Linked DNA regions of Homo sapiens. The protein of the gene in region 1 purifies or fractionates together with the protein of each later gene. This does not show direct contact. Each region holds a gene or a part of one and is shown in the gene's direction. Other genes may lie near its edges. The genes, in order: TRUB1 and MTFMT.

Region 1 (11,315 bases):
CATTAGAATGAAGGTGTTTGACAGTTTCTCAGTAAATTTTTATACTGTGCTTACTGACACATAGAGTTTAGAATCTGTTTCTGATACTGGTTTTTGCCAGTTGTTTAATATTTGTTTCTGAACTCCCAAAGATGAACAATGTTTACTTTAATATGGGATTATGGATGATTTTTTTTTCACATTATTTGGTATTTTCTAAAATCTATACAATAAACAAGTCACTTTTATGTTAATAATAAAAAAGATATATTTACGTTAAGGAATTTGTTTGGGTTTTTTTACCAAGATAAAATATGTTGAGTTCATTGAGATATTCGTTGTTCACCCCTCCTCCCCCAAACCACAAACACAGCACACTATATATTACTGAAAGATTTTACTTGTAAATTTCAGGCATATTTTCAGAAATATTATGACTGAAAATGTAAATACATCATTGACTCTGGTATAAATTTTGTAACAGCCAATTTGCTGTTCAGCTACGAAAGCTGAATGTCATACAGTGAAATCACTGATCCTCAAAATGACTGTAACATAAATAGAATACCACAGGCACGTCTTGTTACAGAAACCTAGTTCTTAGGTATTTCAAAAATAGGCATCGTTGTCTTGTTAGCTATTTATATTTCTTATCCTTTTAATTTTATGTACCTGTTAAAAGAACTAAATCATTAAGAGTTTAATGTTGAAGATTATTTTTTAATAAAAAGTAGTTAAAAACTGTTAATAAATATTTTTTCTTTTTTTAAAAGCACTAGAAGGAATCTTAGAGATCATCTTATCTAGTGACTTTCAAAATTTTTTTGACTAAGACCCATAGTAAGAAACATATTTTATGTAATGACCATATAGATACATACATTTATGAAAAGGAAAAATTTTATCAAACAACTTTGTGTTAGTCTGTTTGTGTTGCTGTAAAGGAGTAGTCGAGGCTGGGTAATTTATAAAGAAAAGAGGTTCATTTGGCTCATGGTTCTGAAGTCTGTACAAGAAACAAGGTACTGGTATCTGCTTCTGGTGAGGGCCTCTGGAAGCTTACACTTGTGGCCATGTCGCATGGTGAGAGAGGGAGTGACAGAGAGAGAGGCGGAGGTGCCAGGCTCTTTTAAACAGCCAGATCTCGCGTGAACTCATTGCAGGGAGGGCACCAAGCAATTAATGCAGGATCCGCCCTCATAACCCAGACAATTCCCACCATGCCCCACCTCCAACACTGGGGATTATATTTCAACATGAGATTTGGAGGGGGCAGACATCCAAACTTTATCCAACTCTAACCCTATGTATGATGTATTCTTGATACTTTTCCTTCTATTTCATTAAAAAAAAAAATGTGGCTGCAGCCCCCTAACTTGGCCCAGATCTAATGTCCACTTTTTCTTCACTTCCTATTTTGACAGATGAATTTTTATTTGCATCACAGTGCAACTAGAAAAATTAGACTTCTGGTATGTGTAGGATGGAGTTACGTCAAGAGTAGAAATATTTAGTTCTAGGATGGCAAATATTCAGTGTTCTTGTTACAGCCATATTACAGAACAGCCTTCTCTCCCTAGCCAGTCGTAATTGGAGATATTGCTAATTGAACATGGCCTAACATTTCTTCTTGCTGAATCAAGAAACACCCTTAGAATCTTCTTCAACATGGTGCCACTTCATACAACTACTGTCACTTACTAGATGAAATTCTGGCTTTTAAGTAAAATCTTTAGGCCATCACATTATTTTGCTTCCATCTGTGAAGACTAGACACTAATCAGACCACCCAAATCATTTCTTGCATTTCCTCCCATTCAGATCAGGGTAAAAGTTAAGAAAAGAGCCACTGCTCTGTGTTCCTCATTGTCTTCCTCTCCTGCCTTGGAGTGAGCTTTGTTCTGCCAGTGATCATATTTCTCAAGTCTTTTTTTTTTTCCCTGTGCCTGATCATTTAGGATTATGTGTATAATGTGTGTGAAAAGCATGTGAACTTTTTGTACAGTGCCTTGTGTATGGAAATTGCTCATTAAATACTGTTATTACTATTCCCAAGTATTTTACTTATCCCCAAGTCTCTCTCTTGAGGTCCAGGCCTGTTGGAGCTTTCTAGCCACATGTTCTGTAGACACCTGAAATTAATTTTACTCAGGCAAGTTCTGTTGGAACTCTTGAATACAGTTAATTTCTTTTTTTTTTTTCATGGCTATCTGTGATTGCTGGTGATGTAGGCAAAATATTGCACTCATCAGAAAGAGAAAGCATGCCAGTTCTTTAAGGGAGAGACAGACTTTCCTTGGACATTAAAGCCAGAAAGAAGTTTCTGACAATAAGAGATATTAAATGACAGATAGATGGTGATTTTCAAAAATAGTTTTACAACAGATGTAGAAATGGAGCTACATAAAATACAGTTTAGGTAAAATTCTGAGAGGTTAGGCTGATGTGTTCCTTTGGCCTAAGTTGATCTAAGTATAAAACGTTGCTTACCTAGAGGAGGGCAAATAGCCCCTCTTATATCTTCCCTAAATTACACTTTCTTTGAGCCAGTCATTCAGCAAAAGCTGGATAGCAGATGTCGTACTTTGAAGGAACAGACAGAAGGAACAGAAGAAAACAGATGAGGTTTTGGAGTGCTGTCTTTATTAGTTTTCTATATTGTTGATCAAAGTTGGTTACTTTATAAATGCTTTAGAAACCAGATGGAAAGGTTATGAAAACCTGAATAATCTAACTAGCATGTCCAGATATAAAGGTACCTCCATATCTCTGTGCAGGTAAACCATAGTGGCACCTGCAGGCAAAGCCAGCATCTCCTCAGAAGGCAACTTTGTATCCCCCTCCAGTAGTTAAACAAGTGTCATCATTGGAGTGAATGAAGTTTCCCCTTCTTGGTGTGGTCAAAGGATAGTAACTTTCCCCAAGAACACAGTAACATTTTTAGGTTAACCAGTTATGAGAACTCTAAAGTGTGGCTTGAGTAATGCTCCTATGAAACTTAGCCAACTCTTGAAGATTTCAGCATTTCTAATCAGTTTTCTCCAGAGGCTAGTCCAGTTTGTACCTTTTCTATATACGCTATTAATTTTCATATATTTCATAAATACTGTATTGAAAATTTTAAAGGGCTTATACTTATGAACTATAAAAAAGGACTGTTCCTTCTTAATGAAGACATTCAAAGCCACATGTTTTTGGTTTGATAGGTTTTTTAAAAAGTGTTCTTTCTCATCCTCAGTAATATCCCTATTTTGTTTGTGAAGGTTTAAATCACAAGCTTTCAAAATCACACCTCAGTTGAGATCCAAGGAAATGATTGTGTGTATACTTTCTGTAGTAGAAACATTTTTCTTTCTCCTAAACAGAACAGAAGCTGATTTGCTGCTAGAGATGTCTAGCTAATACCTGCTGTGGGGTTTAGGGAGCTTGACGATGAGTAAAGTAGAGAGTAGAATAATACCAGTGAGAAACTGTGAGTCCCAGAGAGTACACAGGTCAATGGAATGTTCTTCAGGACCTCTCTTTTGTTGCAGTAGAATTACATTGTAATGAATACAGTAGTAGAATTCACGGTTCCCAGGTATACGTCTTGGAGAATTAACAACTCCAAAGCACAGACTCTACGTAGAATTTAAGCCAGTGAAAAGAAATATTTTAGACTCCATAAGATAAAATGTTAGGGTTGAATGTGTGTATCTCCATGTCTTTTTTCTTCTATCCCAATATCTTTTTGGTCGTGAGGCTTTGTTTCAGCTGAAGGCTTAACTGTGTGGGTGAATTTTTCTAAATGGTTTGTGGATAATTGAATAAAATTGAAGGATAATTATAACTAGATGCCAGGACAAGGGAAAGCTAGGAGACAGCTGATTTCAATCATCGGTTCGCAGGGTGTGGTCTAAGGACTCCTGAGACTCTTTCAGGGTGTCTGTTGAAATTGAAACTATTTTCATAGTTTTGCCTTTTTAACTTGCAATCCCACAAATACATGGTAGAGTTTTTCAGAGATTACTAGATGTGCAATGACATCATTGCTCTGATGGCTAATGGAAGTTTTAAACATTTTTCAGCTTTAATTTCTAATACAATAAATCTAGGCAGATATAACATGTTTTTAAAAAATGTGTGCCAGGGTTTCTCAATAAGTTTTAAGTGTGTATAGGAGTTCTGAAAGCAAAATGTTTGAGAACATTTTGATTTGATTTGATTTGAGAATGTTGATTTAGATATTGTCTCCCCTAAAAAGAATCCAGCACGTAGCTACATACAATATAATTGCAGACCCTGGAGTGGGTTGAGACTTAGCAGATGAAATCTAGATATTCAAAACTATGGTGAAATGTGAAGAATTGCACACATAGGCACTTCTCTAGCATGTGTATCATTCTGTCAGCAACTTTTTATTAAGCTGCTACTGTGTTTCTATTTAGGAAAGAACACAATAGATGAGCAATGGGAAACTCTAGCTGAGAGTTCATACTTGCAGAAAGTAAGGATCAATAAAGTATACTTGGAAAACAGTGAATATCTCTGTAGGTCATCATGTGCTAAGATGTGTGATATGTGTGATATGAGAGCTCAGTGAGATAAACCAGACATGTCTGTTGTTGCCATTATATCCAGTCCTCTCTGCAGTAGTTGTGTTTATTGAAGTTTTCCTGTTACACTGTAACCTCTTAGAGGGAGAGCAATCTATCTTATGTATCTGTGTATCCTTCCCTAGCACTTAGGAGAATACTTTGGACATTCATAGTCCTTAAGAAACATGATCGAATTTGTGGATTTGATATATGCCTTCCTTCTTTCTATGTATGGAATTTGTATCGAGCACCTACTCTTAGTCATGCTGTGGAGGTGGGTAAATGGAAGTTGGGATGGATTAAGGGGTGGCTTTGAAAGCTGAATAAGGTTTGATCCTTAGAGAAGAGTGGGAGTTCAAGGCCAGGGAAGTGGCATATGTGCCCCAGGTGCACAAAACACCAAGAGTCCAGAGACTAGAATGGGCATTGCATACTTGGGAAACATGTTAAGGTTCCTAGTTCAAACTCGTTGCAGAGCAGAATACTGCAGATACATTCAAGGCATAGTCTGCAAGATTGCACCATGGTTTTCTTATGCAACTAAACAGACTCTAAAGACAAAAAAATCATAAAGCATTTTGATGCTTTGCTTTCCTTATGGGAGCTGACTGTAACCAGATGAGTCAACTCTAGCCACTGTTAACTGCGAATCATTCTGTATTTTCTTTCTTAGAAAATAAAGATGATGATGGTATTATTATCTGTTATTTACCAGGGCTAGATATTGTTACTCTAAACTCTTTGCTTCTTCTCATGAGGCATTATTGTTTTCCACATTTTAAGATAAGGAAATTAAGCTCCAGCCGGAAAGACTAACTTGGTCTACAAATTGTGGTACAGTCAGAATTCAAATCCAGCCAGTTGACCCTGAGCCTGTGCTGTTACCATTGTTGTACTTCTCTCATACTTCCCCCTGTGGTATGCTTAGTCGAGGTTGATTGTCCCAAAATATAGAAGCAGGAATGGGTGTCTCAGGTGATGAGACTGTGTTTAGTTACAAAAAACTAATTTTTGTCAATACCTATGAAACTTTAAAAAAATTAATTGAAATGCGTTGGAATATTCCCTTCTGTATTATATTTATTTTTAAAAAATCTGAGCTAGATAATATTAAGGTGATTTCATCGAAGGGCCTTAAGCTGTTATAAAATGTCTGCATACTTACAAGGTTTTGAAGTTTTAATATTTTTCTCATTTTTGTCTTGGGTCCCTTCACTAGCCTCATAAATTTGTCATGAATAAGCTTATATTTCTGCAAAGTACTTTGAGTTTTCTTTTATAAAATTGCTCACATAAATACAGATTATTTTCAGTGGGAAATAAAGTTCTTGCACTTTTTTCACTACTTCATGTGATGCCCCAAATAAAATTTGCGTTTGACCAAAGTGAAAAGAGTACGTACTACAAGTGTGTCCTAAGATGAGAAATAAGACAATCCTCACGTAACTAAGAATGATCTAATTCTTCACTTGTGAATAAAGATCAGTTCTTAGAAACGATTCTTGTTCCTGAGATCTTAAGTAGTAATTTATCTTTATTAAGAAAACACATGGCCGGGCGTGGTGGCTCACGCCTGTAATCCTAGCACTTTGGCTTTGGGAGGCCGAGGTGGGTGGATCACCTGAGGTCAGAAGTTCGAGACCAGCCTGACAACATGGTGAAACCCCATCTCTACTAAAAATACAAAAAATTAGCCGGGCGTGGTGGCGGGTGCCTGTAATCCCAGCTACTCCACAGGGTGAGGCAGGAGAATCGCTTGAACCCGGGGGACGGAGGTTGCAGTGAGCCGAGATCGCACCACTGCACTGCAGCCTGGGCAGCGAGCAAAACTCCATCTCAAACAAACAAACAAACAAAAAACACATTTAATAGTTAAGTCACTAATTCTGTGACTATACTGGTTTTGCTCTTTTTCTACAGATTTAGCTTTTGTTTAATACATGACCTAGTTACTAAGAATTGTCTTAGTATTTCATGTAAGAAGTACTAAGTTGGCTTATTTAAAATTAATTTTAATTGTATATGTGGGAAGATTATTGAATCTTATGATGACCATGGAGTCAAGGCTATTGTACCATTCTCTCTACTCATGGATAGACTTGAACATTTTCCTTAAACAAACTTCTCAGTATAAAGGTGGTTTGAGAAATTTGCTTACAATAATAATGGTCATAATTATTAAGCCATAATTATCAATAAAATCAGGTTTATCTTTCTCATATTGGCTAGTGTGAGACGTTTGTTAATGTTCTTCAGTTTACACAATTGCTTTCCACATATTAAAAACAAAACAATTGCAGTCTGTTGTTTTAGCCTGTATTTTGTATCAGGTTGGTAGTAGTAGTGAAATTCTGTGTAAACTTCAAGACATGCATAACAGTTTTTGTTTGCCTCACGGCCCATTTTCTCTCTTGTTTCCCTTCCTCTAGAGATATACTGCCATTGGAGAACTGGGGAAAGCTACTGATACACTAGATTCTACGGGGAGGGTAACAGAAGAAAAACCTTACGGTATGAAGCTCATCTAATGTAGGCCTCTTTTCTAACATTTAGGAAAAGTTTCTGTGCAGGTAGCATTTTAAAACAAATCTCTGATATTATCAGCCATTTTAATTCTCAGTGTGTTTCTTTGGGCTAAGAAGATTGGAAATTGTTTATCGCATTGTTGCTTACTTGATAGGAGTTTTTGAATAAAGATTTATTGTGATTGCCTCTTTTTCTATAGTGATGTTTTAAGTGTTCAGAATTATTCTTCCAAATAACCTCCTTGCAAAAGCATGTATGGCTAGGATTTAGGTTATTTTCCCTAGTAAACGAGAAACAAAGCAGAGATACTCTGTTAGATTTCATCTGTCTTGCCATTAAAAAAAAATATATTACCTGTCAGCTGTTGAAATAAATGTACCAGGTTTAGTACTTTAAAACTTGTCATGTTTTTGTGCTTTCGGACTATGTAAAAAGAGGACAGAGGGCAAGCTATTTCTCTGGAAGTAAACCAGAACTCACTGGGGCCCACCTTAAGTTTCCTACTATCCCTTCTTTCACTACCGTAAGGAAGAATAGATAAATTAAATGGTCTCCTAGCAACTCTCACAGTGCTTATGCTGTTTATAATGCAGCAATTGCAGTTTTCTAAGTCAGTTCACCTGCATCATTATGTCACCAATTTGTGGACTGTTTTTTTGTTTAGTGTTATCTCTTAGTCATAGGCAAGCCAGCATTTGGCCCCCTTATATTTTTGTGTTGATTATCCTTATTACGTACTGCATATTGCCCCAGTAGTGAGGCCAACCTTTTTATTGTTCATAATAGCTTCATTTTTTCTGTTAACATTTATATGTAGCTTAGTATCTTGCTCAATTAATCAAGCAACATAATGAAAAGAAAAATTACTGATTGATTTCAAGGCTTTTCAAAAACAGATGTTGAAATATTCTTGGAATTATTATTATTAATAAATAATAGCAGACCCTCACTTAACTGAAAGCCAGCTATAACCTTCAACCAGAAGACTTTAAGATTAAGGAGGCATAGGGCAATAGGAGGACGTCAGAGACTTCCAGAGGATACTAAAGTATTTATAAGTACTTATGTAATTAAGTCTCCTGTATCTCTGACTCCATTTACCAAACCATAATAAGGAGAATGATTATTATTCAGAACAGTAGTCCTGGGGTAATATAATTAAGGCTGGGGGGTGTGGGTACCACGTGGTGAAAAATATAAGGCGCACTAGAGTAGACAAATCTGGGTTTAATTTCTAGCTCTGCCCTTATCTAGCTGCGCAAATTTGAAATTTTCTTAGTCTCTTTATGTTGTAGTTTTTCCATCTCCAAAATGACAATAATGATAGCAACCTCATAGTGTGATTATGAGGATTGATTGGAGGAGAATGAATTTGGAGGTCTCATAGACAAGTCATGAGGCTCTTATAGTAGTCCAAGCAGAGATGATGGTAAGTTGGACCAGGGTGCCAGTGGTAGAGACAGAGTTTTCCTATTAGAAAAATTTCCCATGATTAGGAAGTAAAATTAGCAAGACTTGATTTTTAGTTGATTGGACAGGATAGCGAGGAAGTTGTCAACCATGACCTAGGTTTTGGGGTTTTAAAATTGGTTACATGATAGTGTAATTCATTGAGGATGCTGGAAGGGGCCCAGGGTGACAAAAATACTTAAACATATCCTTTCTTCCTATTCTTAAGCATTTTAGTATTTTAAAAAGCTCTATGCTGTATTAGGTAATTTGTAACCTTATTTACTTACCTTAAAGAAAGCTCAGTTTGTTAAATCATCTCATTGTAATGATGCAGTAAATCATAGAGAAACTAAGAACGTTTTTCAGGCTGTGAAGAGAAGAGCTTCCTACAGTTTATTGAATAGTATTTATAGTCCCGGAAAATGAGAGCTCAGAGAATTTTGCTGATTGGCATGATTTTTCTGTGTGCTTTCAGTAAATCAACAAATATTTTTTATTTGTTGAAGCTGCTATAGCAGGTACCAAGGGAAAGATAGATAAATGTAAGACCTAGCTTGTGTCCTTAAGGAACTTACTGTCTAATGGAGAACTCTGACCAATATTCTCAGCCTTCTGAGACCTAATACAGAGACCTATGACCAATATCTTATAATGCCTTCTTTACTATCCTGAAATAAAATTCAGAGATACTTGAATTTACTTATACATTGAGAAAAATCAATATGATGTAGTAAATGGAATATAAGTAAGAAATAAAAGTAATTTATAATAAAGTAGGTGCATTCATATGTAAGCACACAGATATTAGCAGACTAAAAGTCTTTTGGCTGGGGTGCAGTGGTGCACTCTTGGCTCACTGTAACCTCTGCTTCCTGGGTTCAAGTGATTCTTCTGCCTCAGCCTCCTGAGTAGCTGGGACTACAGGCATGCACCACCATGCCTGACTATTTTTTGCATTTTTAGTAGAGGCAGGGTTTCACTTTGTTGGCCAGGCTGGTCTTGAACTCCTGATCAGCACTCAAACATACAGCATAATTGTAAATAGTGAAAAATGCTATTTAGGAATAATAGAGTGTTATGATAGAGAACAAAGGGAAAGGCCCTGTTACATGCTTTGATGTTTGAGTCTAAGCCAGAGACTCATTTTCTTATTCCTCTGAGCTAGCTTTCAGCTGTCTGAAATAACAGTTAAAAATAGTATTTGTCTAGATAGGACAAAATGACTTAAGAACATTAATTTGCCATTGACTGCATACTGAGTTACTTTAGCCAACATCAGTTGTTCTTGACAGGTCAATTAAAAACTGTGTTTCTAGTTGTTACAATGACTGGGTGGGGTGGTGACACCAGCTGCCTTCAGTGGGTGGAGACCAGGGATGACAGATGTCCTGTAACACAGAGGATCGTAGAACACAATGAAGAATTGTCCTGTGTACTGTCAGACTTCAGGATGTCTGCCAGATAGTCATGCAGGTGTATTTCAGCCATGAGGCTGAAACCATGTCTCTTTTGGTCCTCAGTAGTGTATTTTTGGTGTGGTATACGGCATACAGAATGACATATATGACATATAGAGTTTGAATCAAAAAAGATAGGCAGCAGAGGCATTCTCAGAAAAGATGACTGCAGATAAGCCGGGAAAGGCAAAGCATCTTCCTGCCTTCTGCTGCTGTCTTCTCATCCACATCTAGGTATTAAGTGTCTGCTACTATTGCCAGTGTCTCTGAGGACACACAGCTTCAGTGTGCTCATCTGTTCTCCGCTGAGCTAAGGACACTAAGACCATAGCTTCCCAGGCTAGATGTGGACCAAGCATCCGGGAAGGCCTAACTGTCCCTGTACTGGGAGTAGTTTTTTCTGTCCCTCCCATGAGTCAACAAAGGTAGAAAGAAAAGTGGAATCTCATGCTAATCTTTTATTCTAAACACCACCACCCCTTAGTCCTGAGATCAGATGTTACCAAGGTCTTCTCAAATGGACGTAGCTGATGTTGTATCTAATGGTACTGTCTCCTCTTGGACTGTATATGGTTTGGCTGCTGAGACTTATCCTGGAGTAAGCTCAAGAGTTGAATTTAGTTTCAAATTGTGATATGAACCAATAGGGTATATGCTATAATTGGACTAGTGTGTAGCTGGGTATAAAAATTCTTACAAAGCTGTTTGCATTTAAACTTTTCATTATAAAATGTACAAGTAAAGAAAACTGAACAAAAAATAAAGGTACAGCTCTATCAATTTGCACAAGACAAATATCTGTAGCTAGCTATCACCCTTAGTCAAGAAATAGAAGATTGCTAGAAACCACACTTGTGCCCTATCTGTCATTACCCTGTCCTCCTTTTGCAAAGATAACTACTGTTCTAACATCCAATGCTATGGAGATGGTTTTAAAACTAAGGCATAGTTTTGCCTGTTTTTGAATTTAGTATAAATGGAATTAAACACTATGTGTCCTTTGGTGTCTAAATTCTTCCACTTATTATATTTTTGAGATCCATGTTGGTACATGTATGAGTATTTTGGACTTTTTTGTTGCTATGTAGTATGCCACTGTGTGAATATACTACACACATACTCTCCCAGTTTGGGGCTTTGTGAATAAAGTGCTGTGTATATTTTATACCTGCCTTTTGGTAGACACATTTCTACCGTCATTTCTTTTGGGTATATACCCAAGTGGAATATAGGTCGTGTGTGTGTGTGTGTGTGTGTGTGCGTGTGCACGTGTGTGCCTGCATGTGTTCCTGGGTTATAGAGTGGGTGTATATTTAACTGTACT
Region 2 (7,984 bases), on another chromosome or scaffold:
TCACTTGAGGTCAGGAGTTTGAGACCAGCCTGGCCAACATGGTGAAACCTCATCTCTACTAAAAATATTTACAAAAATTAGCCAGATATGGTGGTGCACGCTTGTAGTCCCAGCTACTCAGGAGGCTAAGGCACGAGAATCACTTGAACCTGGGAGGTGGAGGTTGCAGTGACCTGAGATCACACCACTGCACTCCAGCCTGGGTGACAGAGTGAGACTCTGTCTCAAATTTTTTTAAAAGTCTAGAAATAAACCCATACATTTATGGTCAATTGATTTTTTTTTCTAAAGGTAGTTCCCAAAAGATAGTTCTTTTTATTATTATTATTATTATTATACTTTAAGTTCTAGGGTACATGTGCACAATGTGCAGGTTTGTTACATATGTATACATGTGCCATGTTGGTGTGCTGTACCCATTAACTCATCATTTACATGAGGTATATCTCCTAATGCTATCCCTCTCCCCTCCCACCCACCTTTTTTTTTTTTTTTTTTTTTTTTTTTTTTGACAAGAGTGCCAAGACAATCCAATGGAGAAAGAATAGTATTCTCAATAAATGGAGCTGGGATAACTGGATGTCCACAATCAAAAGAATGAATTTGGACCCTATGTCACATCATATGTAAAAGTTAAAGAAGCTAAATGAATAGCTAAAACTAGAAAACTCTTAGAAGAAAATATAGGTGTAAATATTCATGACATTGAATTAGGCAGTGGTTTCTTAGCTATGATGCCATGAAGCATAAGCAATCAGACTAAAAATAGAGAAATTGGACTTCATCAAAATTAAAAATAGTTGTGCTTCAAAGGACACTATCAACAAAGTAAAAAAGACAGGTAGGCCAGGCATGGTGGCTCATGCCTATAATCCCAGCACTTTGGGAGGCTGAGACAGGAGGACTGCTTGAACCCAAGAATTTGAGACCAGACTGGGCAATGTAGTGAGTCCCCATCATTACAAAAAGTAAAAAATTAGCTGGGCATCATGGTGCACACCTGTGGTCCTAGCTACTTGGGAGGCTGGAATGGGAGGATGCACTTGAGCCAGGGAGGTCGAGGCTGCAGTGAGCTGTGATTGCACTACTGTGTTTCATCCTGGGTGACAAAGTGAGACCCTGTCTCAAAAAAAAAAAAAAAAAAAAAAAAAAAAGACAGCTTACAGAATGGGAGGGAATATTTGCAAATCATATAACTGATAAGGGCCTAATATCCAGAGTAAAGAATTCTTACAATGACTCAGCAGTAAAACGACAAATAACCCAATTAAAAATGGCCAAAAATTCTGAGTAAACATTTCTTTTTTGTTTGTTTTTGAGATGGAGTCTTGCTCTTGTTGCCCAGGCTGGAGTGCAATGGTGCGACCTTGGCTCATTGCAACCTCTGCCTCCTGGATTCAAGCGATTCTCCTGCCTCAGCCTCCCTAGTAGCTGGGATTATAGGCAAGCGCCACCACGCCCGGCTAATTTTTGTACTTTTAGTAGAGACGGGGTTTCACCATGTTGACCTGGCTGGTCTCGAACTCCTATCCTCAGGTGATCCACCTGCCTCAGCCTCCCTAAGTGCTGGGATTACAGGCATGAGCCACTGCCCTGGCCCTGAGTAGACATTTGTTTCAAGCAGATACATAATATGAATGGCCAGTAAGCATATAAAAGATCAGCAACTTCATCTGTCTTTAGGGATATGCAAATCAGAACCACAATGAGATACCACTTCACACCCATTAGGATGGCTATAATTCAAAAAACAGACAAAAACTAGTGTTGGCAAGGATGTGGAGAAATTTGGAAACTTCATACATTCATGGTACCATGTTTACCTCTTAAAAATGGTGCAACCTGTGTGGAAAACAGTTTGGCAGTTCCTCAAAAAGTGAAACACAGAAGTATCTTATGACCCAGCATTTCCTTTCCTAGGTTTATACTCAAGAGAATTGGAAACATTGTGCTCACACAAAAATGTGTACCCGAATCTTCATAGCAGCATTATTCAGAATGGCCAAAAAGTGAAAACAACCCAAATATCCAACTGAGGGATGCGTTAAAAAAATGTGGTATATAGCCATACGGTGGAATATTATTAATACTCAGCCATAACCATAATCACATGCTTATGACATGGATGAACCTGAAAAATATGCTAAGTGAAAAAACCCTGTCACAACAGACTACATATGTTATTATTCCATTTATATGAAATGTCCAAAATAGGCAAATCCATAGGCTGGAGGAGAGAGGATAATGGGAATTTTCTGATAATGGATGGCGTTTTTTCTGGGAGAGAGAGGTAATGAAAATGTTCTAAAAATTAGGCAAGAAAAAAACGAGTGACATTGGTTGAATGACCCTGAGTCTACTAAAAACCACTGACTTGGAAGCTTCAAAAGGGTGAATTTTCTGGTATGTGAATTACATCTCAATAAAGCTGTCAAAAAACAAAACAAAACAAAAAAACAACCCAAGATGGAAAAGAGTTGGACATGTTTGAGGGACAGAAATGAGGCTGGTGTGGCTGGAGCATAGCTGGCAAGATGGAGAGTAGCTAAGGTGAGGGGAGAAGCAAGATTGAGTAGGATTGACATCAGAGGGCCACGGCAGGGGAGTAATGGGATTAGGTATGTACATTCTTAAAAGGTTGCCCTGGCTGCTGCTAGAGAGTGGAGTGGAGGTCAGTTAGGGAATTGGTTGGGTGTGGTGGCTCACACCTGTAATACCAGCACTTTGGGAGGCCAAGAAGAGTGAATCGCTTGAGCCCTGGAGTTCCAGACCAGTCTGGGCAACATGGTGAAACCCTGTCTCTACAAAATATACAAAAATTAGCTAGGTATTGTGGGATGCACCTGTAGTCCCAGCTACTCGGGAGGCTGAGGTAGGAGGATCACTTGACCCTGGGAGGTTGAGGCTGCAGTGAGCTGTGATTCCACCACTGCACTTCCAGCCTGGATGACAGAGCAAGATCCGGTCTTTAAAAAAAAAAATTAAAAAAATAAAAAGAAGCTGCTGCGACTGTAGCCAGATGACAGATGATGGCAGTTTGGAACAATGATAATGGTGGATAAAAAGAAGTGGACATCCAGACTATGCTTGGAGATAGAGTCAGCGGAATTTGCTGATGGAATCTGGGAAATTAGAGATAGATAAATTAGGATCATTCATAGATTTTTGGCTTGAGAAACTGGGTGAATAGTGGAACCATTTAATTGAGATGAGGATGTCTGGGGAGGAACATTTGGGAAGAGAAATCAATAGTTTTGGCCATGTTAAGTTTGACATATATTAAGTTAGAAGACGTTCATATGGAGATATCAAGTAGACAACTTCCTGAGATGCAATTTAGGCCAGTAGCTTGAAATCTCTTGGCACCTATAACTTACTACATGATGATTCTTACCCTCTGCGGTTTATCTTCCCTGTACATGGAGAAAAGCTTTGTGCTATAAAAGACTGAGCCAGAAGGTGGGGTTTGGTTCCTAGAGTTGCCCTTTACTAATGAGAGGAAGGCCCTTGTCTTTGAGCTTCTGCTTTTTTTACCTCTAAAGTGGGATTAATGACCATGTACACAACTGGCAAGATCAAAGGAAATGAACTAGGTGAATGTAAATTCATGCAAACATACTATTTTGGCAGTAATGATGGCAGACACCAAAATGATTATATTCTTACCATCCCTTTCCTTTCTACAATGCTCTGATGATAAGGTGAGCTTTACCTCCCGAAGAACAAGACTATATTCTGAGTATGTACCTAGCATGTTTATTACTCTCAGTAAATAGAAATCTTTTTTAGTCAGTAAGCATGTTTCAAAAATATTTTGAGTTATTTAAAAGAAAAAAATTGCACATATGAAAATCGTTTCAGAACTTTTATTGAAGCGGGCAAAAGAAAAGTGAGCTAGCAAGTTATAGAAGAGGCTATGACATAGATACAGTTATGAACTTGTTCTTCAAATTCATTTACTTATTTGATTTAATGTTCAAATTATTACAACAACCTAACTCTTCTGAAAGTTAAATACCCTCTTTAAGGGGTGTCATAAAAAGAGCACTGCACTGAGAATCAGAAAACAGAAGCCAGTCCTGGCTTTGCTACTAACTAGCTGGGTCCAACCTTGGGAAAATAGCTGCATTTCTCTGAGCCTCACTCTCTTCATGTATGAAATAGAGGATTGAACTACAGTCTGGAAATAAATGCATTCAATTCAGAAATTTTAGAGAACTTATTTCCTGGTGTGTGTTAAATTTTATTAACATTTAAATCAGGCTGTAGGATCTCAGGTATGTTGGAAATGTGTTACATGATAAAGGTGGTATTTCATACTGGAGGGAAGGGTAAGATGGATTATCTAGTAAATAGTATTGGGATAACTGGCCAACCATTGGTGGGGGAAGCCCTCAAATCCTATCTTTTAAAATCATAGTAAGTGCTATATTATAACAATGCATATGTAGTTAACAATACTGTATGGTATACTTACAATTTGTTAATTGAGCACATTTTTCTTATGTGTTTTTTACCATAATAAAAAAATCAAAATATAGATGGATCAAGGATTTAAATATAAAAAGTAAAATCACAAGGACTATAAAAAAGCACAACTGAATAATTTGACAATATTTAATAATCTTAAAGTGTGGGGTAGGCCTTTTTAAGTATGATACGAACCACCAAAGTAATGAGAGAAAAGACTTAGAAATATAATTATGAAAATAAAAAACTTATGCATGGAAAAAATGGCTGTCCCCAAGATTAAAAGTCAACAAACTGAGGAAAATATTCACAACACATGTAAGAGTTAAAAGGCTAATTTCCTAAATATAGAAAATATTTTTGCAAATTAATGAGATAACCATCCCAGTTTTAAAAAATATAACCAAAGGGCATAAATAGGCAGGTTACAGATAAATAAATTAAAAGTGCACATAAATATATGGACAGCTTCTCAGCTTCGCTAATAATAAACAGCAAGAGATTATCATATTTTTTTCTCACTTATCCAGGCAGTTTAGCAATAAAATGTTGATGCTGTTTAACCCACGCATTCCACTTTAAAAACAAAAAACCCCAAAACTATTATCCAGAAATGTGTAAGCCCTCAAAGATATATCGACAAGGTTATTACCCTAGTTTATAGTGTTATAAATAGCAATAAATTGAAAATAACAAATATCTATCATAAAGGTAGTTGCATAAATTACATATTCATAAAATGGGTTACTGTGCAGCAGATAGAGTGAAATTGATAAGTATGTACTGATGAAACATCAATGCTTTATGGTCACATAACAAAAGTCCTTGTAAAACAGTATTGATGCAGGACTTTTTGCTCCTTAACTCAGCTAAAATCTGGGTTCTTGTCTCACAACCAGGAAAAATTAGGCACGTGGACACATTGAAAGGTGAGGAGAGTGGAATTTATTAAAAGAAAGCTCTCAGCAAAAAAAGAGGGGGTCCTGCCAACAGGCTCCCACCTCACAGATTGAATACCAGGCCACCACACAGGAGCTGAAGAGGCCAGGCTCTTCCCCTGCATAAGGCAGAAATTCCTGGTGGCTCCACCCCCATTCTTCCAGTGCTCATGCGGGCCCTTAGTCTGAGCCACGCCACCTTGATTTATTTCCTTTACTGTGCATGTGTTAAGGGACAGAACTTTTCACCATGGACATGTTGAGTCAAGCCCACTGTGCATAATGACCTGGGTGGCATTTGGCTGTCTCCTGTCTCTATCACTGTGTTCTAGATTTTTATAATAATATTTGTAGAAAAAAATACAGGGAAATGCACATCAAACTTAACAGTCGTTACCTATAGGGATGGGAATAAATACAGAATATCACTTTCTAAAATTTTTTAACATAATGTAATGCTTGCATTTTTTATAAGGATAATAAATTTTTAATTGGAAATATTAGTATATTAGATATAAACATTGATTTTAAAGTAACATTTAAGATCTTATAAATCGGCCGGGCGCGGTGGCTCACGCCTGTAATCCCAGCACTTTGGGAGGCTAAGGCGGGCGGATCATGAGGTCAGGAGATAGAGACCATCGTGGCTAACATGGTGAAACCCCGTCTCTACTTAAAATACAAAAAATTAGCCGGGCATGGTTGCAGGCGCCTGTAGTCCCAGCTACTCGGGAGGCTGAAGCAGGAGAATGGCGTGAACCCGGGAGGCGGAGCTTGCAGTGAGCCAAGATCGCGCCACTGCACTCCAGCCTGGTGACACAACGAGACTCCGTCTCAAAAAAAAAAAAAAAAAGATCTTATAAATCCTGGAAACACTGATGTAGAGAGTCATGTTTACGGTCTGTTCCATCAAACTTAGTGACTGAGTTCCCAATTCCTCTAATTGAAAGAAAAGTCCAGATTAACACAAAATAGTAGTTGAAAAGGGTTTGGGAGTTGAGTGTATTCCTTTATCATACCTTCTTTAATTTTACTTGCAGATTCCGTTGCAGACGCTCTGGATGGCGAATACCATTAAACTTCTGGATTTGGTAGAAGTTAACAGTTCAGTCCTTGCTGGTACTAACTTTTGAATAGCTAACATGGAAGCTGTTTTCACTGTAGTGTATCTGGAAATACGTCTGTTTTATCATATGTCACAATTACTAAAAATAACTTTTAGTTTGTTTCAGTTCAGTAATTATAATACTTTACATTCACTTATTGTCTTATTCTTTGCAACACTCATTCTCATATATTTTCTCATTTAATCATTACAAGAACAGGCCAGGCGCGGTGGCTCACGCCTGTAATTCCAGCACTTTGGGAGGCCAAGGTGGGTGGATCAGCTGAGGTCAGGAGTTCGAGACTAGCCTGACTGACATGGTGAAGCCCCGTCTCTACTAAATACAAAAATTTAGCTGGGCATGGTGGCACATGCCTGTAATCCCAGCTACTTGGGAGGCTGAGGCAGGAGAGTCACTTGAACCTGGGAGGCAGAGGTTTCAGTGAGCCAAGATTGCGCCGCTGCACTCCAGCCTGGGCAATGAGTGAAACTCCATTTCAAAAAAAAAAAAAAAAAAATCATTACAGGACCCTGGGGAGTAGGCAAAGCAGTGTTCCTATCCCATTTTAAGCTCTGTGATTTCCTGCCTTAAGGTTTTCAGAGAGTGCAGAATGACTCGATTAGTTTCATTCTGGTGAATATTATAATGAAAATATCTGGGCAAATCAGTGAAAATCTAGGCCAGAGTGTATTCATACTTCATGCCACAAGTCCATTCTGAGGCCCATCAGCATCCTGCCAATACGGTGGACAGAAGGAATGTGAGCCACAGAGGAAGCTGGTTTAATTTAGAGGTAGTTGGAGTTCCCCAGGAACCTAGGAATTAGGATTTGTTTGGGCAGGGATGAAAGGGCCAGCCTAAATCCTAAACATCCTATGTATTTCCCCCTGTTGGCTAGTTATTTCACCAAAGCGCTAACACAAAACTTGTAGATTCAGCATTTTAGGTGGTCACTGGGTAAAGGAATTATAGCTTTGTATGTGCATGGGAAGCTTTCCTTTGGGTTTCTGATGTACAGAGAGCACTGTGGTTTCCTTGTAAGTTTTGGTTTACAAAGTCAACATCAGCAAATGTGTTCTCTCCGGTATCAGTACTGCCTCCCAAGATGTTTTTTGATTTTTAAGAAGTACTATGAAGTTGCATAATTGCTTTTTTCTCTTGTATATCTTTTCTTTTTTCCATTCTTCAGATCCAAAATTAACGGGACAGGCTCTTATTCCAGGATCAGTAATATACCACAAACAGTCACAAATACTATTGGTTTATTGCAAGGTATGTTTTTCATTAGTTTCAAGTTATCATAGTTGTTTTACTATGTTATAGTCTGTATCATTTATTATTTTTAGTTGGAACTTCACTTAACTGCCTGTCCATAGATTGGGTCAGGAGATCATTTAATTTTCTTAAGAAATAGTGAAGTCTCTAGCATAATTTTTTGAAAGTGATGAAGTTTTGCCAAGGCATTATTAT

What was found.
Region 2: the proteins of TRUB1 (region 1) and MTFMT purify together in Homo sapiens (affinity purification with mass spectrometry; 2 studies listed by BioGRID and IntAct, with this or other methods). This does not show direct contact.

Annotation. Positions count from the first base shown.
Region 1 is NC_000010.11:114,952,741-114,964,055, forward strand, and holds part of TRUB1 (pseudouridylate synthase TRUB1), read left to right. Parts: intron 1-6,985; coding exon 6,986-7,067; intron 7,068-11,315. UniProt on the Homo sapiens protein: Pseudouridine synthase that catalyzes pseudouridylation of mRNAs and tRNAs. Mediates pseudouridylation of mRNAs with the consensus sequence 5'-GUUCNANNC-3', harboring a stem-loop structure. Constitutes the major pseudouridine synthase acting on mRNAs.
Region 2 is NC_000015.10:65,004,656-65,012,639, reverse strand, and holds part of MTFMT (methionyl-tRNA formyltransferase, mitochondrial), read left to right. Parts: intron 1-6,448; coding exon 6,449-6,527; intron 6,528-7,703; coding exon 7,704-7,786; intron 7,787-7,984. UniProt on the Homo sapiens protein: Methionyl-tRNA formyltransferase that formylates methionyl-tRNA in mitochondria and is crucial for translation initiation.